Homo sapiens: one gene and its partners. The protein of the gene in region 7 interacts with the protein of the main gene of each other region in a pairwise test. Each region holds a gene or a part of one and is shown on either strand. Other genes may lie near its edges.

What was found.
Region 1: the proteins of KLF15 (region 7) and ZNF330 interact in binary tests that used the Homo sapiens proteins (3 or more experiments, as listed by UniProt).
Region 2: the proteins of KLF15 (region 7) and PIAS4 interact in binary tests that used the Homo sapiens proteins (3 or more experiments, as listed by UniProt).
Region 3: the proteins of KLF15 (region 7) and RAB11A interact in binary tests that used the Homo sapiens proteins (3 or more experiments, as listed by UniProt).
Region 4: the proteins of KLF15 (region 7) and APPL1 interact in a two-hybrid assay, tested with the Homo sapiens proteins (one large-scale study listed by BioGRID and IntAct).
Region 5: the proteins of KLF15 (region 7) and SNX13 interact in a two-hybrid assay, tested with the Homo sapiens proteins (one large-scale study listed by BioGRID and IntAct).
Region 6: the proteins of KLF15 (region 7) and ANKS1A interact in a two-hybrid assay, tested with the Homo sapiens proteins (one large-scale study listed by BioGRID and IntAct).

The regions. Positions count from the first base shown.
Region 1 is NC_000004.12:141,233,046-141,235,197, reverse strand, and holds the end of ZNF330 (zinc finger protein 330), read right to left. Parts: intron 1,484-2,152; coding exon 1,209-1,483; 3' UTR 501-1,208; downstream 1-500.
Region 2 is NC_000019.10:4,024,736-4,028,235, reverse strand, and holds part of PIAS4 (E3 SUMO-protein ligase PIAS4), read right to left. Parts: intron 91-3,500; coding exon 49-90; exon of another isoform or gene 47-48; coding exon of another isoform or gene 39-46; intron 1-38.
Region 3 is NC_000015.10:65,886,491-65,889,489, reverse strand, and holds part of RAB11A (ras-related protein Rab-11A), read right to left. Parts: intron 1,790-2,999; coding exon 1,650-1,789; 3' UTR 1-1,649. UniProt on the Homo sapiens protein: The small GTPases Rab are key regulators of intracellular membrane trafficking, from the formation of transport vesicles to their fusion with membranes.
Region 4 is NC_000003.12:57,230,729-57,234,228, reverse strand, and holds part of APPL1 (DCC-interacting protein 13-alpha), read right to left. Parts: exon of another isoform or gene 3,465-3,500; coding exon of another isoform or gene 3,462-3,464; intron 1-3,461. UniProt on the Homo sapiens protein: Multifunctional adapter protein that binds to various membrane receptors, nuclear factors and signaling proteins to regulate many processes, such as cell proliferation, immune response, endosomal trafficking and cell metabolism.
Region 5 is NC_000007.14:17,790,495-17,793,994, forward strand, and holds the end of SNX13 (sorting nexin-13), read right to left. Parts: 3' UTR 267-3,500; downstream 1-266. UniProt on the Homo sapiens protein: May be involved in several stages of intracellular trafficking. May play a role in endosome homeostasis. Acts as a GAP for Galphas.
Region 6 is NC_000006.12:34,892,255-34,895,754, forward strand, and holds part of ANKS1A (ankyrin repeat and SAM domain-containing protein 1A), read left to right. Parts: intron 1-3,500. UniProt on the Homo sapiens protein: Regulator of different signaling pathways. Regulates EPHA8 receptor tyrosine kinase signaling to control cell migration and neurite retraction.
Region 7 is NC_000003.12:126,344,772-126,347,408, forward strand, and holds part of KLF15 (Krueppel-like factor 15), read right to left. Parts: intron 1-2,637. UniProt on the Homo sapiens protein: Transcriptional regulator that binds to the GA element of the CLCNKA promoter. Binds to the KCNIP2 promoter and regulates KCNIP2 circadian expression in the heart. Is a repressor of CCN2 expression, involved in the control of cardiac fibrosis.

The DNA of each region.
Region 1 (2,152 bases), on a different chromosome or scaffold from region 7:
AAACTATTAAGTCTCGGGCTTGCTCCTCAGTTTTTTCAAGCCGTCCTACTGCAAAAGGTGAAAAGCTTTTTCACATGCCACCAGAGGCCCTCTAACTTTGACACCTGGCTTTCCATTGCCTGTTATTGTCCTTGGCTGTTAAGTATGCTTCTATAGAACAAAAATGGCTTAACAATGGCCATTCAACCCTGTTATCCTCATAGCTACAATTTTCTCCATACATCTAAAATGTGAGGCAATCAGATATTGTCTCTCCTTGTACAACTACCCAATCCCTATTAAATGCCAGTGTTAAGTTGTAACAACTGGGACTTGTGACAGGACTGTCCTCCACCTATCAATGATGGGGTCTGGGCTGCTTATCTTTAAGTGTATACCACACAGTCTCTATTACCTATTTCCATATGTGTGAAAACTGAAGCAGTTTGTAAAAAAATTAGAATGCTTTCCAAAACAAACTGAAAATACAGAACAAAAAATTAAATATAATGTCAAAAGTATTTAAGTGAAATAATAGATTTATTCAAAGAGAAATAAAATGTCCTGGGTAAAGCTTCTGTAATAATACTATTTCTGATACTGTATCTCTGAAAAATGGCTAACTAGTCACCTTATCAATACATTTAAGGCATCAATAATAGGTACCACTGAGGACATACATTGTGAAGAAAGAGAAGAATAAGTCAAATACTAAAACATACTTATCATGACAACTCAAGGTGACATGAATATTTAATGAAAATTTAGAATATAACAACATATGACTCTCATTCTGTGGACATAAAAGGAAAAATACAGTAATTCATTTTACTCATTACATTTTACAAAATCAGCCCAATGAAGCAGTATTTTTTAATAAAAACAGTAATTTAATTTCAAACAAATATATTACCATCCTATTCCTTTATCTTGTATATATGTATCTAATTGGCAAAACATACTTTACTGAAATCAGTAACAATCCAATCCATGATACTTCAATTGCTTCGATCAATAAACATCTTAAATTTGAAACTCATTTTTCTTATGCCATAAGCCTGATTATCAGTTCTATAAAAACGCTACACCCTATTGCTTGGCCCATTAAGTGTAACTAGTCTTCTGCACAAGGCTAAGTGGCTAAGGTACTTTTGAACAACCACACACAATTCATCAAGCACACACACTCACTCCTGCTCCTCTCACACACGGCCACCAGAGCAGCTCCCCTAGTTCTCTTGTTCCTCATAGTGAGCATAGCCACTAGCATAGGTCCTTCCTAAATTCAAATTAGTAAACAAATCTGATGACTCAGTATCTGAATCCTTTCTGCCTTCATCTTCTTCCTCTTCATCATCCTCTGCTTCATACTCATCCTCCTCCTCATCGTGGTAGCTGGTATCACCATACTTATCAGATGAAAGGTTCTTCCAATAAGCATCATACCCAGAAGCTCCATCTCCCTCTTCACCTCCAGTCTGCCTGCCAAATTTCAGGGAGCGTGCTATAGAAGACAGACAAGTACAAGGCATTTTGTTAGTTCCAGTTCTCTACATTCTCATCTTCCTCTATAAAATTTCATGGATTTCATTGGCTGCTTCAATCCCAAATGAAAAAATAGGTCACATTTTCCTAATTTTTTCACCTGAGTCTATATACAACACCATAAAAAATAAAAATTACAGTGTAATTTCATTAAATCTAGAAAACAAATTAGACCAACAGACCACTCCAAAGGTATTAAGGCATGTTTAAAACAAAAATACCTTCCGTTTGGCCACTGACAGTTTATTTTCAAATCACATAAATCACAGAATACAGCTGATTTCGTATCAGTACATTTTTCTTAAGACAGCTATTTTACAATGCAGATGCCCTTAAAAACAAAGCCTGTCATTTCTTCTGCCTTAATAGTGACACAAAGTTCAGTGCAGAAGATCAGCAAAATCATCAGTCTCACCTCACCATGCAACTACATCTGTGATTAAACAAAGCAGTCAGTCACTTAGAATTATGGTTCCATTCTGATATGTTTGGTTAAGAGTCAAACTTCTCTTTAACAAAATTGCGAGCTGCATTACTATAAGCATGCTTATTCCTTCACAAAAAAAGTTACATAAAAACCATAAAATAATTTCCTATAGTAGTGCTATATTACATAAATAAACATAGG
Region 2 (3,500 bases), on a different chromosome or scaffold from region 7:
GGGTGGCTGGGGGTCCAGCCCTGGGGTCGCGGGCACACCTGGGCATACCTCAGGACGACCTGCACGGCTTTAACTCCGGGCTGCAGTTCCCTGTGGGTGTGGAGCAAACCAGAGGAAAGGAAAGGAGAGCTGAGTGAGGAGGGCGTGACCCCAGCCCACCCGACAAGGTGGAGACCGCCACACCACAAGGCTCCCTCCCCCAGAGCTGGGAAACTGAGGCCCAGGACTCTTTTGTACGGGCTGGGTGAGAGGAGTGGCTGTGAGGTCAGGAGAGGGGCTGGCCTCCCTGGAAAATGCAACAGAATCCACAGCAAAACCCTGAACCAGAGAGGGCAGCCAGGTGCCTCTCCCTGCGAAGAAACATAGCTAAAACGTGCATGCGGGAATCTAGCAGCTGGCTCACAATGGCAAGAAAACACCCAGTTTGGGAGGTCAAGGCTGGCGGAGCTCTTGAGCCCAGGAATTTGAGACGAGCCTGCGCAACATGGTGAAACTGTCTCCACAAAAAATTACCCAGGCGTGGTGGTGCACACCTGTGGTCCCAGCTGCTTGGAGGCTGAGGCAGGGGGATCGTCTGAACCCATGGAGGCACAGGCTGCAAGCTATGATTGCACCACTGCACTCCAGCCTGGGTAACAAAGAGAAACACTCTCCAAAAAAAAAAAAACAAAAACCAGTAACACCTGAGGATAAACTTTAACAAGAAACGCCCCCAGAAGAAGAGGAAAAAGTCTATCTACCCAAAGACGCATCCGTGGATGTTCACAGCAGAACTGACCACAACAGCCACAAACTAGCAGCATCCTGAGTGTCCTTCCGTAGACCGAAGGACCAACACGCACGGGACGCGACCCAGCCATGGAAAGGAGCCAGGCTCAGACCCAGGCCTCAGCACAGGTGCACCGTGAGGATGTCCCACCCAGTGAGAGACGCCAGACACGAAAGGACACACAAGGCAGGTGGCTCACGCCAGTAACCCTGGCACTTTGGGAGGCGGAGGTGGGTGGGTCACTTGAGGTCAGGAGTTCGAGACAAGCCTGGGCAATATGGTGAAACCTCGTCTCTACTAAAAATACAAAAATTAGGCCAGGTGCAGTGGCTCACGCCTGTAATCCCAGCACTTTGGGAGGCCGAGGCGGGCGGATAACAAGGTCAGGAGATCGAGACCCTCCTGGCTATCATGGTGAAACCCCGTCTCTACTAAAAATACAAAAAAAAAAATCAGCCAGGCGTGGTGGCGGGTGCCTGTAGTCCCAGCTACTTGGGAGGCTGAGGCAGGAGAATGGCGTGAACCCAGGAGGCAGAGCTTGCAGTGAGCCAAGATCGTGCCACTGCACTCCAGCCTGGGCCTCGGAGTGTGACTCTGTCTCAAAAAAAATACAAATATTAGCTGAGTGTGGTGGTGCACGCCTGTAATCCTAGCTAGTCAGAAGTCTGGGGCAAGAGAATCACTTGAACCTGGGAGGCGGAGATTGCAGTGAACTGAGATCGCGACACTGCACTCCAGCCTGGGCGACAGAGTGAGATTCTGTCTTAAATAATAATAATAAACGAAAGCCACATAGTATGTGATTCCACTTCTATGAAATGTCCAGGACAGACCCATTTACAGACAGGAGGGGATGCGTGGGGGCCAGTGGATGAAGGGTGGCAGCTGCTGGGGATGGACATGACTGCCCTGAGACTAGGCAGTGGTGGGAGCTGCGATACCTACTGATCCACGAGAACCCACTCGATGACACCCTTAAAAACTGTATATTCTATGGTATGCAAATCATATCTCGACATAAGAAAAAGAAATGTGGGATGGGCAGGGTGGCTCACGCCTGTAATCCCAGCACTTTGGGAGGCAGATGTGGGGTGGATCACGAGGTCAAGAGATTGAGATCATCTTGGCCAACATGGTGAAACCCTGTCTCTACTAAAAATACAAAAATTAGCCAGGCGTGGTGGTGCGCACCTGTAGTCCCAGCTACTCGGGAGGCTGAGTCAGGAGAATCGCTTGAACCTGGGAGGCAGAAGTTGCAGTGAGCCGACATCACGCCACTGCACTCCAGCCTGGCGACAGAGCGACTTCATTTCAAAAAAAAAAAAGAAAAAGAAAAAGAAATGTCCAGAAGCTTTCTGAGGAGAAAACCAAACTTTTTTTTTTTTTTTTTTTTGAGACGGAGTCTCCCTTTGTTGCCCAGGCTGGAGTGCAGTGGCAGGATCTCGGCTCACTGCAAGCTCCGCCTCCCGGGTTCACGCCATTCTCCTGCCTCAGCCTCCCGAGTAGCTGGGACTACAGGCGCCCGTCACCACACCCGGCTAATTTTTTTGTATGTTTGGTAGAGACGGGGTTTCACTGTGTTAGCCAAGATGGTCTCGATCTTCTGACCTCGTGATCCACCTGCCTTGGCCTCCCAAAGGGCTGCGATTACAGTTGTGAGCCACCGTGCCCAGCCCAAACTGATTTTTTTATACTGTGTGGCTGGCTCTGAGCACTCTGCAGCAGGGACCCAGTGCAGGTGGAGGCTGTGCTGACCCAGGTACATAGACAAGGAAGACGAGGCTGAGAAAGACGAGGTCGCCACCTTGGGTCACCCAGGCAGAGAGGCCTCCATGGCCAAGCCTGGCTCGGCTGGATCTGAACCCTTACTAGGTGTGAGGGCCAGGCTGGGAGGCCCCAGGAACCTGGCCCCACAGCAGGTGGGGGCGGTGGGTCTGAAGCGGCTGGGCACGAGAAGCTAGGCATTAAATGGGGGCGCCCGGCCCAGCCCTGCCATGGACTCAGGGGTGACCTGGGCAAATGGCCTCCCCTGTCCTAAGGGCCCAGCACCTACCATTAGCCTGCCCAGCAGGAATCTGTCTCAGCTGGAGGCAGTACAGCCTCGGAGAGACTGAGGGAGGAGCAGAGCGCAGGGCAGCCACACTGGCCCCTCACCTGCCACAGTTCAACCGTCCTCATCTGAGGACGACCCTGCCCCAGGCGACACCGAGCTGTGTCTGGGGACATCTGTGGTTGTCAGAGTTAGGGGTGTTCCTGGCACAGAGCAGGTGGAGGCCAGGGATGCTGCTCAGCAGCCTGCAGTGCCCAGGACGGCCCCACCGAGGGAACCATCCCACCTCACTATCCACGGTATGGAGGGGGAAACCCCGTATTCATTATATAACTGGGAAAAAACCTGACTTCCGCCAGGCGCAGTGGCTCACGCCTGTAATCCCAGCATTCTGGGAGGCTGAGGTGGGTGAATCACCTGAGTCAGGAATTCGAGACCAGCCTGATCAACATGGCAAAACCCTATCTCTACTAAAAATACAAGATTAGCCGGGCGTGGTAGTGAGCGCCTGTAATCCCAGCTACTTGGGAGGCTGAGGCAGGAGAATTGCTTGAATCCAGCAGGTGGAGGTTGCAGGAAGCCAAAATCGCGCCACTGCACTCCAGCCTGGAAGCCTGGATAACAAGAGCTACACTCAGTCTCAAAAAAAAAAAACAAAAAAACACCTGACTTAACTTCCTG
Region 3 (2,999 bases), on a different chromosome or scaffold from region 7:
CTCAAAGGAAAAATGTAATCTGACAGCATAAGAAATAATCCCCCTATAACTGTTTATTAGAATGTGAATATAATCCAAATCAATAACTAAAAAAAAATCAAATTACAGAGCATGCATAAAATACAAAGTAGCAATTTACAAATAGATAATATTATCTTCATAACTAATACACTAAAATAATAAAATGGCTATAGAAGAAAACCAAAATGACTGACTACAGCAATGCCTTCCGTGTGCCCCACACATCATGAGCACCGCAAGAGACAAAAGATTAACTATGAAATATAGTAATCTAAGCAAGCCCACACATACATATTTTTGGGGATTTCCCACCATCCTGAATAGTATCACTGCAGTTGACACAACTTCCAGGAAACTGCAGAGTAAGTGCTTAATATTATCCACGAGAAAGCAAAACTAAATATTAGTGTGCACATTTCTGAATGAGAAACTAATTGCTTCATTGATTTCAACAATGTAGTGGAAGAAAACTATTTCAGATCTCTACAATGCCTAAATGCATTCTATTTAAACTCAAGGTACTATTTCATTTTACATACTAAAAGAATACATGCCTTTAAGTGGTACCACTTGAGCAGAAATTAACCTCTCACTGTACTCTTCAGACATACTGAAACCAAAGATTTAACTGGACTATATTCTATAATATACTGCAAAACTCAAATATTAGCATTGTTAAAATAATTATCCATGCCTGCTGGTGGATATGGTGATAAAACTAGGTTGTATTTCACTTACTGGAAGGTTCTAAGACAAAATTAACACTTCAAAATTTGACACTACCAGCATTAAACCAATTATTGCCTGAGCAATAAAATGCCACATAATCTACCGCTTGGAAATTATTATAGATCATTTAAATCTTTTGGGCTGCCTGATCATTGCCAACAGAGGCACCCGAGATGGAATACCACAAGTCTCTTCAGTTCCCAGCCTACCAGGCAGCACTGTTTAACTTATGGCCCCACAACCATACTACTAATGAAACCGTAACAATCTTTTGTGTTTACTAAGAGAATTCTCCAGAAAAAGTGCCCCCCTCTCTAATCAACTTTGATGCTTACAAAAATTAAAAAACAAAATTTACTCAACTACATAAACCTATTAAGGCATTTTAGAAATTCATGTCCAGAATAATGGAAAATTTTCAAGCTCTCAAAATCCTGCTATGTTTATAGGGCAATTCTTAGATTTGTGGAAATGTACACTGCACTGAGAGAAGAGTGTATTACCTATAAGCTGCTCTGTGGCAAAATGGTAGCTTATTTCTAAGGTCTTCTTAGTTTGATTTGATCAAGACCAATAGGTCTGAGCTTCAAGTGATCAAGTTCTATTATGTCCTACATACAGTGACAGGCTTCCATGATGAAAAGTAAACAATAACTGAGGAATCCAAACATTCAGTTTATTAAACTAAGGCTAGTGAAGCCATAGCATGAAAAAAAGCTGCAGTCATTCGGGACAAGTGGATGATTTTATAAAGCTAAAATCAAAAGACTTAGGACATGGAAAAATTCATAAGTATGAAGTAATAAAACACAAAAGTGACACAAGAATTACAAATATATTTAAATCTCAGACCTGGGAAATGGACTATACACAGCCTTCTAGGGGAGAAGAGAAATGCCTTAGATGTTCTGACAGCACTGCACCTTTGGCTTGTTTTCAGTGGTTGGTGGAACATGAATAGGAACCACATTGTTGCTTGGAGACATGTCATTTTCGCGTCTGTCTGACATTTGCTTCTGAGAAACAATGCGGTAAATCTCTGAAGGAAAAAAGAAACCACAATACTTAGTGTGAATAAACCTATCATAGTTAGGATAAAAGATACATAAAGGTAGGAGATATATTTGCATCAAAGTCCCTAAGGAAACTGAACAGAGAATACATAAATTTAAAGTTTTATTTTCAAACAGCCACTGATTAGATTCAACCCTTTATTTTAACAATTGCCCTTTGGGTAAGAAAAGAAACAAAGGTTTTTCCATGTCAGAGGGAAAGGTTCACCAGTCAAATAAATCTTTGTTTAAAGAGGTAAACCAGGCCAGGCAGATCACCTGAGGTCAGGAGTTCAAGACCAGCCTGACCAACATGGTGAAACCCTGTCTCTACAAAAATACAAAAATTAGCCAAGCATGATGGTGGGTGCCTGTAATCCCAGCTACTCGGGAGGCTGAGGCAGGAGAATCACTTGAACCCGGGAGGCGGAGGTTGTCGTGAGATGAGATCGTGCCACTGCACTCCAGCCTAGACAACAGAGCAAGACTCGGTCTCAAAAAAAAAAAAAAGAGGTAAGCCAATAGCATTACATTGTTTATGGACTTAGATTCAAAGTAAACCATAAGAGTATTTTCAGTCTACCTTTACCCCAAAAAACAAACAAACAAACAAAAATTGCCTACACACAATGACATTGTACCACACAAAAAATAAATAAATTTGCACTATCAGACGCATTCGGCAGAGTACATCTTAACAAACATGCTAAAATCCCAAACGATTCTTGGAAGGGAAAAAAAGATAATGTGTTTATCAGTGACCTCCTGAACAAAACTTAAATTGTAATTAAAGAATGATACAAAATAGGCAACTTAAGATGTTATATGTAAACTCTATTTTTATTTCATGACACTTATCAAAAATAATTTAGTGTCTGCCTCTTTTACTAAGTGTTAAACTCTGTAAGGATCAAAACTGTGTCTGTCTTACTGCTGTACTGCAACATATAACATGTGTTGTGATAAATAAATAACCGCATGAATGTCACTAAATTCCTCCACAATAAGTATCTGTATGTAACACGTTTGGTCTTATACTGCACTGCCTAAAAGTTGTTCCCTGTGACTAGATTATAAAGTCCTTAAGAACAGAGAATGTACCTTATTTTTGTTTACTCTCCCAGTTGTCCCTCCAAAAACACTACTCTCAAAAAGCAAGATAATTCTAAAAATGTGTCAAATTAACACAATTAGCCT
Region 4 (3,500 bases), about 69 Mb from region 7:
ATTACATCCCAAAGGCCCAGGGGAAGAATGAAAATACCAATAACTACTGGAGATAACTGCAGCTTAAAATCTAAAAGATATATTTTTATTCTAAAAATAATTTATGCCTCAGCCTTAGAAACTGTTGTGGGTGTCGCTGTTGTTGTTTGAGATAGGGTCTCATTCTTCTCCCAGGCTGGAGCAGTAACATGATCTCGGCTCACTGCAGCCTTGACCTCCTGAGCTCAAAAAATCCTCCCACCTCAGCCTCCCAGGTAGCTGGGACTACAGGCATGTGCCACCATGTCTGGCTACTTTTTTTCTATTTTTTGTAGTGACAGGGTCTCACTATGCTGCTCAGGCTGGTTTCAAACACCTGGGCTCAAGCAATTCTCCTACCTCAGCCTCCCAAAGTGCTGGGATTACAGGTCAGGTGTGAGCCACCACACATGGCCAAAAATTTTTTTTTCTTAAATCAACTTATTCCTTAGCTTCCTATTTTCAGAGGAGGAAGCTAAGTCAATATAGTATAAAGAAGGGGAAAGGACACAAAATCATGATGCCAGTAAGTCCCTATTTTCAGTCCTCCACTTCCCCAGGCCTCAGAGATTTAGATTTGACAGAATATTTTTCAAACACTCCACTACAATTCCATATAGTGCTATTTTAAGATGTAAAAAAGAAAGCATCAGGAAATCTTGTTTGGCTAGTGCCATTCTTAAAAAAAATCTGCCGCTTCGTTTCTGTTTTGTTTTTTTTTTTTCTAAAAATGGGTAATTCCAATTCAAGGAGTTACATATTTATGTAAAAACTTGTAGCATAATTAAATTTAAAAGCTCTTCTTAGCGCAAAGCAAGTTGAAACAGATTCCCTATTTTAAGCTAACAATATCAACTTCAACACTGGATAATTGCTGTTTGTTTAAAGTTAGTAGCTTAAAAAATAGAATCAATATGGTACCATTTCATCAAATCTACGATGGTATCCATTGTAAGATGCATCATTTTCATTTTTGTACTACTCAAACAAAACAATGCTGGCAATTAAGCTATGATTTAAGGTTTTCTTATGTCTTGAATTTTTTACCTTATATTTATGAAAACAGACCTTCACACAGAATTTTATCATATACAGCTCTCATGTAAACATAACAAATATAAGCATCATAAATTTATTTCTAAAACTTCACAGAGTTCGAATCTTATGAACCACTTTTCTTTTTTGTTTTTTTGTTTTTTGGTTTTTTTTGAGTCAGAGTCTCACTGTGTCGCCCAGGCTGGAGTGCAGTGGTGTGATCCTGGCTCACTGCACGCTCCGCCTCCCGGATTCATGCCATTCTCCTGCCTCAGCCTCCCGTGTAGCTGGGACTACAGGTGCCAGCCACCACACCCAGCTAATTTTTTGTATTTTTAGTAGAGACGGGGTTTCATCGTGTTAGCCAGGATGGTCTCGATCTCCTGACCTTGTGATCTGCCCGCCTCGGCCTCCCAAAGTGCTGGGATTACAGGCGTGAGCCACCGCACCGGGCCCATGAACCACTTTTCAACTCGAGAGTCATCAATATGCATGTTTTCCTATACATTATCATTCTCTGTGCCATGAGGAGGTAAGTATTTCTTAGAAGTACTCCATTTTTGTCCCTAATATTTTCTTCCAAGAAACTGATACTCATTCAGCAAATTTTGATGATGTCATTTGACATCTCACCAGGTGTCAAAAGAAGGTTTTCGGACAACAACCAGGACTGATATTCCTTTCTCAAATGGTGGCAAAATTGATCTGTTAGTTGAACACTGAGAGACTACACTTGGCCAGTATGCTACTAGGAGAAACAACCAAGTATGTACATTTGCAGGCAATGTGAAATACATTACTACTGCTACCTGGCTGATAGCAATTGTTAATATACCATCAACTCTAAGAGGAATCCCAATCAGAGACATCAAAATGTTGGGAGGAAAGGCACATCTCATGATTAATTCATATTATGCAAAAACAGAAGATCCCATTTGGGACTGGGGTTTGTCTTCACTGTTCTATCATAGATGAATCACTAAGATACATATCTACATATAAAATCAATTAATTTTCTAAAGATCATTATCTGTTCTTAGTAATTAACAAGGTTTATTTTGATTTTGATTTTCAAAACAACATATAAATATGGACAAGGCATCTACTATAAGCTTAAGATTTTCTGGCTCAATGGATGATCTTTTGCAGAACTGTCTGGTTTGGGCAAGGTAATTCCAAACATGCTTTTTCCCCACCTAGGTTCCAGGCAGTATTCTTAAAAGATGCTTGTTTGATCAGCTGGATTTTGGACTTGCAAATTCTCCCTAATTTAATACGTAGTTACTATAAATCAAAACTAAAAGAAGGGTAACTGTAATTCAGGATAGTCTTCCATCACTCCCAGGCTCTTTTTTTTTTTTTTTTTAAGAGCCAAAGCCTCGTTCTGTTACCCAGGCTGGAGTGCAGTGGTGTGATCATAGCTCACTGCAGCCACAGACTCCTGGACTCAATCGATCCTCCTGCCCTAGCCTCCTGAATAGCTGGGACTACAGGTGCATGCCACCACGCCCAGCTAATTTTATTTTTTGTAGAGATGAGGTCTTGCTATTTGGCCCAGGGTGGTCTTGAACCCCCACCCTCAAGTGTTTACAAGCATGAGCCACTGTGCCAGGCCAAGGCTCTTTTTTAGGTAGCAACTGGCAGGCCACTTTTGATTAGATCTAAATGATCTAAAAAAAATTAAAAACTAATCAAACAAAAAACTTTTAGGGCCTGGTACAGTGGCTCACATCTGTAATCCCAGCACTAAGGCCAGGAGTTCAAGACTAGCCTGGCCAACATAGTGAAAACCTGTCTTTACAAAAAAAAAATTTTCTTTTTTTTTTTTTTTTTTTTTGAGACGGAGTCTCGCACGGTTGCCCGGGCTGGAGTGCAACGGTACAATTTCGGCTCACTGCAACCCCCGCCTCCCGGGTTCAAGTGATTCTCCTGCCTCAGCTTCCCGAGTAGCTGGGATTACAGACGTCCACCACCACGCCCGGCTAATTTTTTGTATTTTTAGGAGAGACGGGGTTTCACTATGTTGGCCAGGTCGGTCTCAAACTCCTGACCTCGTGATTCACCTGCCTCGTCCTCCCAAAGTGCTGAGATTACAGGCATGAGCCACCACGCCCAGTCTTCTACAAAAAATTTTTAGATTAGTTGGGCTACTTGGGAGGCTGAGGAAGCAGAATCACTTGAACCCGGGAGGTGGAGGTTGCAGTGAGCCAAGATCATGCCACTGCACTCTAGCCTAGGCGACAAGAGCGAAACTCCATCTCCAAAAAATAAAAATAAAATAAAATAAAATTAGCTGAGCTTGGTGGCGTGTGCCCAGGAGTTTGAGGTTTCAGAGCTATGGCTGTGCCACTGCAATCCAACCTACGTGACAGTGAGACTCTGTCTCAAAAAAAAAACAAAAAACTTACCATGAGCTTTAAAAGTCTTCATATTCTTTGCTGCTCTGC
Region 5 (3,500 bases), on a different chromosome or scaffold from region 7:
TGGGAAAATACTTTATAATTTGATACGATGAGGAAGTATAAAGTTTCTTTAACACTGTGGTGTAAATTATTTGCCCCATAAAAGAAAAAGTTAAATTCAGTCCATTTAAGTCAGTAATCACTCAAGCACTCATCTATCAACCTGGAACTTGAATTGGTTGATATCTAAAAGAAAAGAAAATACAAACAGATACTAAAAATAAGACTACTGAGCAAGCATCTTAAAAGTAACAAAAATACATTACTATTAAATGAACTCAACAAAAATGTTTGTTAATACTTTATTAGTATTTTCTAATGGACAGAACACAAACCAAATAAATTTTTTAATCCTTTTAGTTGAATAAAAATAACTGACATTCTGATTGTTGTTTCTTCTTTGTTAAAGAAAGAAAGTATTGATAGAACAGTTAGGCACACAGTTGACACTTACTGTACAATGATATGCACACATTATCTTTTAACAATTATAATCCTAAAATGTGCTCTTCATATTTTTTCCCTTGTAATACAGGAGCCATGCTCCTAAAAGCAAAATTTACTACTAATAAAAGAATTTTCCAAGGAGTGACAAAAAGACTTTTAAAACAAGTCCTTAAATAAAAGGATGCAGCAACAACGGAATGTAAGTTGTTGGATTAAGAAGACAGTTTAAGCTACATCTCAAAAAATTAAAAATTCATTTATCTTACAATTACTCAAATACACATGCATTAAATGAAAATATTGCACAAAATTAAAATTTTAGATTGTGAAATTTATATCATTCTTAATTTTTATAAAAATTGGTACACTTTCTGGTAGCACTTAACTGATTGATTTTTCTTCCCAAATACCAGCAGCACAAACTTAAAATGAACAAACTGAAATATTCAAGAAAGTTTTTGTTTTTTTTTTTTTTAAAAAAATTAAGGCTAACCAAGTGCATCCATTGGTCAATGGCACAATTGATTTCAGCAACTATTTGGAATATCCTAATTATAGGAAATGCCCATCTAAGTGATATATTTAAATAATACAATCAATTTTTTAAGGTGAATAAACTATGATGGTTTCTAAATAGTGTACATGTTACCTGAAAAATCAGAAAACACAAAGAATGATTAATTTCGAAAGTTCTTGCCTAAAGGCACCACTGACTTAAAAAACATTCAAAATCAAATACCAGAAGACATAAAGCCTCTTCATGTATATATTCATATATGCAATAAATGCATTAAATGTAACTTTATTAAACATAGTACACTGTACTTGACTTATGGTTAAATATTTTACACACAGCTTGACCAAGTCATTCAAAAAGTTATCTCTAATTTTAGCATGACCACAGCTCTTTCTGATGTAAAAGACAGATGTGCATAGAGAAGGTGCACCACCATTTACAAAGACTATCATTTGACATTTTCTGCTTCTGAAATATAAACTCTTCTAAACAAAAATTACTTTAAAAATCCATTTACTCAAATAGTTTTTGGTATGATTGCAGTTATCTTGCAGGGCTCTATTTTGAAAATTTGCAATATTACATGACCTTTATTTCCCTAATTGATGGCCAGTGCTCCTCACATTATATAGAAATGCTTTTTCACATGTACACGTTAGGGTCTTACATGAATTATTCTGTATACTGTTAGATTTATTCATGTCAAAAATATATTTGAAATGGGCAGAGGCATATATGAAAATCACTGCACTTATGGCCATGCTGATGCTTCCTACAGACATGTTTCATGTTTCAAACATTTTCACTTTTAAAGCCTGGGGCTCAGGGAGGGGCCAAGGCAGGGAGACACCCTGAGAAGAAGAAATACTATTTCTTCCACCAGAGCCACTAAGGATCTTTTCTCACTTGCAAGTTGCAATGAAAGGGATTTCATTTTATGTAATTCTGAAGACATGCAACATATGCTGAATATATGCATACTATAAGTATGCACAACAGCATTATTAATAAATATGATTATTATAAAGCTTTAAAGGAAGGCTTTATTCTGTTAATAACCCTCACTTTGTAAGTAGGATCTAAGTGAAAACAAGACAGTGATATCTTGTTCCAATCTTAAAGCTCCCAAATAACTGGGATACCAATACTCTGTCCCTTTATCTTAAGCACCCAGACTTTCTTTTAATACCAGGATCTTGGCTCAGTGGTCTGATAAGTAGCTTCATTATTTTAAGGTTTTAGTGTTAAATATTTTTAAAACAAAAAAAGCTGACACACCCAAACCCTTAGGCAATGAAAGTATTTAAAACTATGCAGAAATCCTGCATAGAAGGGATGTGAATACTTCTAAGATGGATAAAATGGACAGTCAGAAAACTATAGGAAATACAGAAGCTCCAAAACTAGAGAAAGTATTTTATTTTATTGATATAAAATTAATTTATGGGTTTAAAGGTATACACTGAGGGGTCTTGCCTACTAGCTTTATTTTGTAGAACTTTACATTATGTGAAATATAAATAAAAGCATATTTTTAAAAATATTATAGTTCTTTTTTCATCATTTATTTTCATATATGTACACTGTCATAGAATTAGGAATCTGTATGTTTACTATGACTAATAAGCTCATTAATCATTTAATTTGCTATTTCTGCAGTTACCTAAGGCATGTCTAGATCACACAATTAAAAATTATCATATGGTAACTTTCCAGACTACTATTTAAATTTCCATATTTTTAGAAGGACAAAATGTATTTGGCAGTTCTTCCAATAAATTATATCTTCTGTATAATCAGTAATCTGTTAAAGATAAAACTAATAATTTTGAAATTTAAATGAGAGCCACCACATGCTTCTTTTTGCACAAAGAATGCCAAAAGGAAACATAAAATTGAGTACCCTAAGAGCAAAACACAGCCCTTAAAGCACACATAAGAATAAAAATTGTTGTATACCAATGAATAACAAATCCAATCAAATTCTGTGTTTGATTGGTTTTATTTTATACTCAGCTTTATTTTATATCACAAAACTGTAATTCAGGTATAAGGTTATTTCACACTTTAAGGGCATTCTGTCTCTTTCTCCAGACCTGAAAGAGATGTTTCAAGGATCATTCACCTGGCTAATCCACAATATATCAAAATGCTGACAGACCTACAAAATCATTATGCCAAACAAACTCCTCCAAGTCGTACATTGCACAGTCTCCAACTGTTAAACAAATTAGCCAATTTATCTCTGAACCATTGTTTTGTGCTTTCCTTAGCTTTCATATATACACTCTGGCACTTTGTCATTGCTGGAGAATGCTGATTAGTTTGAAATGGAAGAAACCAACGCCATTCTTGCTTGAGATGGGGGCAGTTTTCTCTCAATGTTGCAAAATATGCACCAAATCATTTAAGACACAGAAATCTCTCTTGGTAGTGGTGGATTATAGATGAGAATGAGAAGAACCACAGACTTATGGATGTATTAATAATCTATTTTGAGACACTAAAAGACTGGTGCAGACACAACAGTATTTGAGTTAAGCCCCAGAAGATCTGTC
Region 6 (3,500 bases), on a different chromosome or scaffold from region 7:
CTCTGGTTAAAGCTAGTAAAAGATTTCTGAGCAAATGAGACCATGCCTAGGTCAGTATGTCCTCCCTTTTTAGATGTGGACATAGTGAAGGGTAGGTTACCTCTGCTCCCAACCCTCTCTCCCCTAAAGACCCTGGATTATTTAATGAGAGCTGTGGAATCATAGCTTCAGATTTGGCCTTTGTATTAGCGGCCATATTCTACCCCTATTTGTACTGCCAACTGTAACTTGCCTGAAGTAAAGCTGGCAGAAATAGGAGCTTACAGTTGCAGTGGAATAATTGTTCCAGACCACACATGTGTTTGTGTATTCACCTGTTTGTGTTCCCCCATCCCGTATTCCACAAAGGCTTTGTGTTTATTCTTAAGCTAAAAAATGCCCTCTTCTCTTACCCATCCCTTTTCCTCTACACAGCTTGGGCTTAGGTTTTAACTTCTTAAAGCCCTTCCTGATGACCCTAATACACACAGATCTCTCAAGCTTCCATGTCTTTGGAGCACGTCATCTGTAGTGTACTTTGCTTGCCTAGCTTTCACAGTTGATCGCTTTGGCCTGTCAGTATAATGTTTACATATAGCAACCCTCACCGATTGATGCTATACCTGAGAATCAGAAAGTCAGCAAAGAAGACTTCTACTAGAAAAACATGTTGTTACAAACTTTGTGTTCTTCTAGCCTTCCTTATTTACTGGATATTTATTCAGGAACAGTATAGCATTATACTGTCCACTTTTTCTTAGCATTAAGCATGTTATAGCATTAAGACCACTTGTTTTTGTGTCAGACTTCCTGGATTCACATTCCACTGCCACCACTGACTAGCTGCTTGACATTATTCAAGTTAACCACTTTGATACTCAATTTCTGCATCTGTAAAATGGGGATAATACTATCTGCCTTATAGGTATCATCTTAGATAATGTGTGTACGGGACTTACCATAATTCCTGGCATATTCTAAGTCCTCAGTCTTAGTCATCCTCAGTTCAGCACATACGGTTTTGCTGTGTTGCACCTGTTCTGTGCAAAGTACCATGCCAGACACATTATTTATTTTTATTTTTGTAGAGATCGTGTCCCACTATGTTGCCCAGGCTAGTCTCAAACTCCTGGGCTCAAACGATCTTCCTGCCTCAGCCTCCCAAAGTGCTGGGATTATAGGTGTGAGCCACAGTGCCCTGCCTGACACATTTTAAATGGTGTTTTTTCATGCTTGGGGATCTGTTTTCCAAGCATGGCAGACTAGAAAGAGTAAATAAGGGAGAGGAATCATTCATATACCCAATGTTTACCCATGATATACTTTGTGCCAGGCCAAGTGATTGCTAGATGCACTGCAAAATATGTCTGAGACCTGGGACATTGTACGTGGTCTGTCAGAATTAGCCCCTCTCTTCATACATGTTCTGTTCCCTTACAGAGTTTATAGTAGTATGATACGTCTGTGTAACAGGCCAACAAAAAGGAGACAGAGAAAGCACACAAATTTAGCATAATTTATCCTACCTCCCGGCTGTTTGAAGCTATTAACATAGGTGTATATAGCCCTATATACCTATGTAAGCCCCAAGCATCAGTTTACTGTATCTTTGTGCTATGATTTATGTTTATTATGACTGTTAGCCATCAAATAAAGATTAAATTATGTTCAATATAGCTTGTTAGTGAAAGAAGAAAAAAAATATAGTTTTCTATCCAAAATGGTTTAAATATAATTTTTTTACTTAAAAGGATAAGCAATAGATTATCTAGAAAGCACAGTTATCCAGAATGTCTAGGCTTACAGAGGCTCTGGATTGCATGGATTATACTTTATATAATACTAACTCATTTTCTGATTGTTTAATGGATGCATGCCTTCGGTCTATACCTTGGGAGCTTGGGATAGGCATTCTATCAAACTTCTTAACTTACAGTATTTTTTAGTTCTGGGCACGTAGCGGGCACTCAGATTCTCATGTAACAAGACAGTTTGCTATGTTTAGAGTTATAGTGAAATACTGATTTCCAAGAAAGAAACTCCTGTATAAGAATATTGTAAGATTTGGTTAAAAGTAAATTCTATCAACTAAAAGGCCAAAAAGATCTGAGAAAAGGAAATGTTAAAACCAATCATGGCCAGGCACAGTGGCTCACCTCTGTAATACCAACACTTTGGGAGGCTGAGGCAGCTGGATCACTTGAGCCCAGGAGTTTGAAACCAGCCTGGGCAACATGCTGAAATCCCATCTCTACGAAAAATACAAACATTAGCCAGGCGTGATGGTGTGCACCTGTAGTCCCAGCTACTCGGGAGGCTGATGTGGGAGGATTGCTTGAGTCTGGGAGGTTGAGGCTGCAGTGAGCCAAGATTGTTCCACTGCATTTCAGCCTGGGTGACAGAGCTAGACCACGTCCTCACACCACCACCCCCCAAAAAAAGAAGAAAAAAGAAAACCAGCCACAATAGCTTCAAACTGTAAATTGAGTTATGAACTAAATACTGATGTATATGAATGGAAAAGTAAAGTGAAATGTACTTCTTAGGGTTCAGAAGCACAGAGAAACTAAACCGAAGATCACAGTTGAGGAGATTATGTTATGGTTTAGGAATATTTTATGCTTAATTTCTCAAGCATGAGAAGGGTGAATAAGAAAAGAGGAAGCCAAGGAGACTTGCTGGAGAATCTGAAAATTTATAGATAGTAGCAATGAATGTGGCTTTAAACTAATTTTTATGCTGCCATTTCATTGGGGGAATAAAAGAAAAAGAAAACTATTCCAAAACAGATATGAATTTCCCAAGATGTGAAAATGTTCTGAAATAAGGAATGAAGCATGAAAAATTTTGAAAAATGGACCTCATTTGGAGGATAATAACAGATTCTCCCAAATGTCAGAAAATATGGCAAGTAATTCATTGTTGTAAAGAAAGCTTCCTAATATTTATTTAAGGACTTTGGTTTTTTTTTTTTTTTAATTAAAAAAAAAAATTTAAGAGACAGGAGTCTTGCTAATGTTGTCCAGGCTGACCTTAAACTCCTGGGCTCAATTGATCCTCCTGCCTCATCCTCCTGAGCTATTGGGACTGCAGGCACATGCCACCATGCCAGGCTAGACTTCTTCCTCTTGTTAGTGTTATTATTTTTTAAACAGTGATTAGCATAACCATTCTATTGAAATGGTCCTTTATTCATTCCCAGAATGGATCTGAACCTTGGAGATTATAATGGCGTGACAGCCTTTTCTCATGCTGACCTTTTTACTTTTGCCCACTACTGTGCCAGATTTCTTTTGAAAGTGCCTATTTTGAGCAAAATGATTTTAACATCTTAAGGAAGAGGGCAACACTGACCATGTAAGGATTGTAGAATGGAAGGGCCTGGAAACAGATCTTGTGGATTTGAATTTGTCTGATCTAAGTTCCTGCTCTTCTAAGAGAATGCAAAAACAAGATAAAATGCAACTATCCACTAGCATAGCAGTTTTCTGGGTCTTCCACTAAACTATCTTAATTAATTA
Region 7 (2,637 bases):
TAAGGCAGGCCCAAATAAAGATTGACCCTGCAAAGTGTATCTGGGAGTTCAGGTGGCTCCCGACATTTCGCTTTCTTGGCCCTGCTGGCCTGGGAGCAGGCACTCATGTGACAGTCAAGAGCCCAAGCTGCATCGAGGGCCTGGACTGCTTGCCACCAACCTCAGGGATTTGAGGCCCTCTCCACCCCTGGCTTGGCAGCAGGTCCCTCCCACCCCACCTACCCCTCCCACGACACACTATCCCGCTCTGTGCTCCACCTGCATTGACCTTTCCTTGGTCCTTCTTGCCACAGGCCATTTGCACATACTGTTCCCTCTTTCTAGAATGTTCTTCCCTCCCCCTCCTTGCTCTCTCCTACCCATTCCTTAGAGCTCAGCTCGAATGTCACTTCCTTAGGAAATCCCTCCAGGACTGCATCCAATTCTAGGCTCCTGTGGCATTACACACCTCTCTCTCCTCATTCTTGCTGTTGTTTTGATTTTAAATTATCTTCAACTTTTTGATGACTGTCAGTCTGTCCCACTAGACTGTCAGCTCCATGACAAAGGACATGTTTGTCTTGGTTCCCGGTGGTCTTCCCATGACCAGCCCAATGCCTGGTATATGGTAGGTGCTGAGGAGGTGGATTTCAATGCAAGAGTGGGCACAGCAAGCAGCCCTAGGGGGGCAGACACTGTCAAGGAGCAGTCCCAAAGCATGCACGCACACACACACGGACAAATACATGCCCACACATACAGGCACACAAACATACACGGACGAATATGTGCCCACACATACTCACACACACACACACACAGGCACAAATTCATGCCCCCATGTACTCACGCACACACACACACACAGGGACACGAGGCCCAACACCCCTTTGTGGACCAGGGCCACCCAGCGAGAGGCGGTGCCCAGAGCAGCAGTTCCCACCCAGCAATTGGTAAGGGCTGGTGATGCCCTGGCGCCCTGACCCTGTGGGTGGAAGAGCAGAAGGACCCAGCAGAACATGCTCTGGACAAGGCACAGGGGGTGGCAGGAGGGCCTGCAGGAGGAGACAGGAACTCCGACTCACATCACAGAGTGGTGGTGGCACCAGGCACAGGGCAGTGCTTTCAGCACATCTCCAGACTAGGTGAAGCCCAACTGCCCTGCCTGTCAGAGGAGGAAACTGAAGCTCAGGGTGCTGAGGGCCTGGTCCAGGTCACTGACAAGACAGGGCCCCTGAGGCTGGAGCAGAGGTCTTGACACAGCCCCCTGCCCTGGCAATGGCAGATGACCTGGACTCCCAGTCAGCAGAGCCCCCCAGCCTCCTGTACAGGCCTGGATGGGTGTGTGTGTCACAGGGCCCTGTGCCAGTGAGGAAATGGGATAAATGTGCCCTGGCAGTCAAAGCTGACACCTGTGCTCCTGGGCAGGACACCTGCCCCCAGCTGCAGCTGGGCACACAGCTTCTGAGCAGAGGAGCTGGCCCAGGGCAGGGGTAAGCAGAAAGCTGCAGACACAGAGTGCCACGCCTCCCAGGCTGCAGCCCTGGGGTCACCCAGCATCTCACTGGCCAGGGAACCAGGATGAGCCAGCCCCATTGGACTGGCAAGACCATGGCAAGGGTTTAAAGAGGCCAAGTCACACAGCCCAGGGGACAGAGTCTCAGGCTCCTGCCTTGACAGTTCCCACCCCACTGGGTGCCCTGAATGGTCCTTTCTGGGCCTCAATTTCTTCATTCATCCAATGAAGACTCTGGCATTCCTGCCCACCTTCCAAGACTCATCTCAAAGGCCACAGGTGGTGACGTGGGGCCACACAGATCTCTGGTCATGGTGACACCCTGGGAAGGACAGGCAGATGAGATAGAACCAAGCTGGACAACATGCTGTCCTCACCTGAATTCCCTCCCTGCTGCCACAGGGTCCTGGCACCTGAGAGGAACTTCCCTGGGAACTGAGCCCTCAGAAGACCCCCTGCCTCACCCCTGCATGCCACATTCTCCCAAACAGCAGCCAACAGAGAGCCCTGGGGACTACAGTGGGGGATGTGGGAACCCGGTGGGTAAGATGCAGCCCTTGTAGGCAGTAAGCTCTGCCACTTACCAACCAGGCAAACTAGGAAAGTCACCAAGCTCCCTGAGCCTCAGTTTCTCTACCCAGACAAAGGGAGAACAAAAGACCTATTCCTGAGGACTGTGAGGATTGTACAAGGCAACCAGTAACGGTTTAGAGCCCTGCTTAGCACGTGGCAATTATTCAAGAATGATGAGCTCTTATCACCTGCATGGAGTTGAGTGTTGGGCCTGGTTCCTGGTGGGTCCTGCTGCAGACAGGGCAGCACTATGATTTGTGCTGAGCTGTAGGGCAGAGGGTACACAGGGGTCCAGTGTCTCTCTAGAGCAGCTATAATGTCAGGGCTGGTGCATACAGCACTTCTGTATGAAGGCGTCCCTTCCTTGAGACACTAACCCTCATCCGCCAGACAACACCGCAAACAGTCCAGTCTCAGAAACTGCAATGGAAATGGTGCTCCCTAGAGTTGTGCAGTTCACAACCTGCCCAACCATACTGGGGGCCTCTGCCTACAGAGGGAAGGAGGTCAGAAAAAGCCTCAATGCAGAGGGGTCATGAGAGCAGGCTGGGAGCCAGACCCCTAAGTTT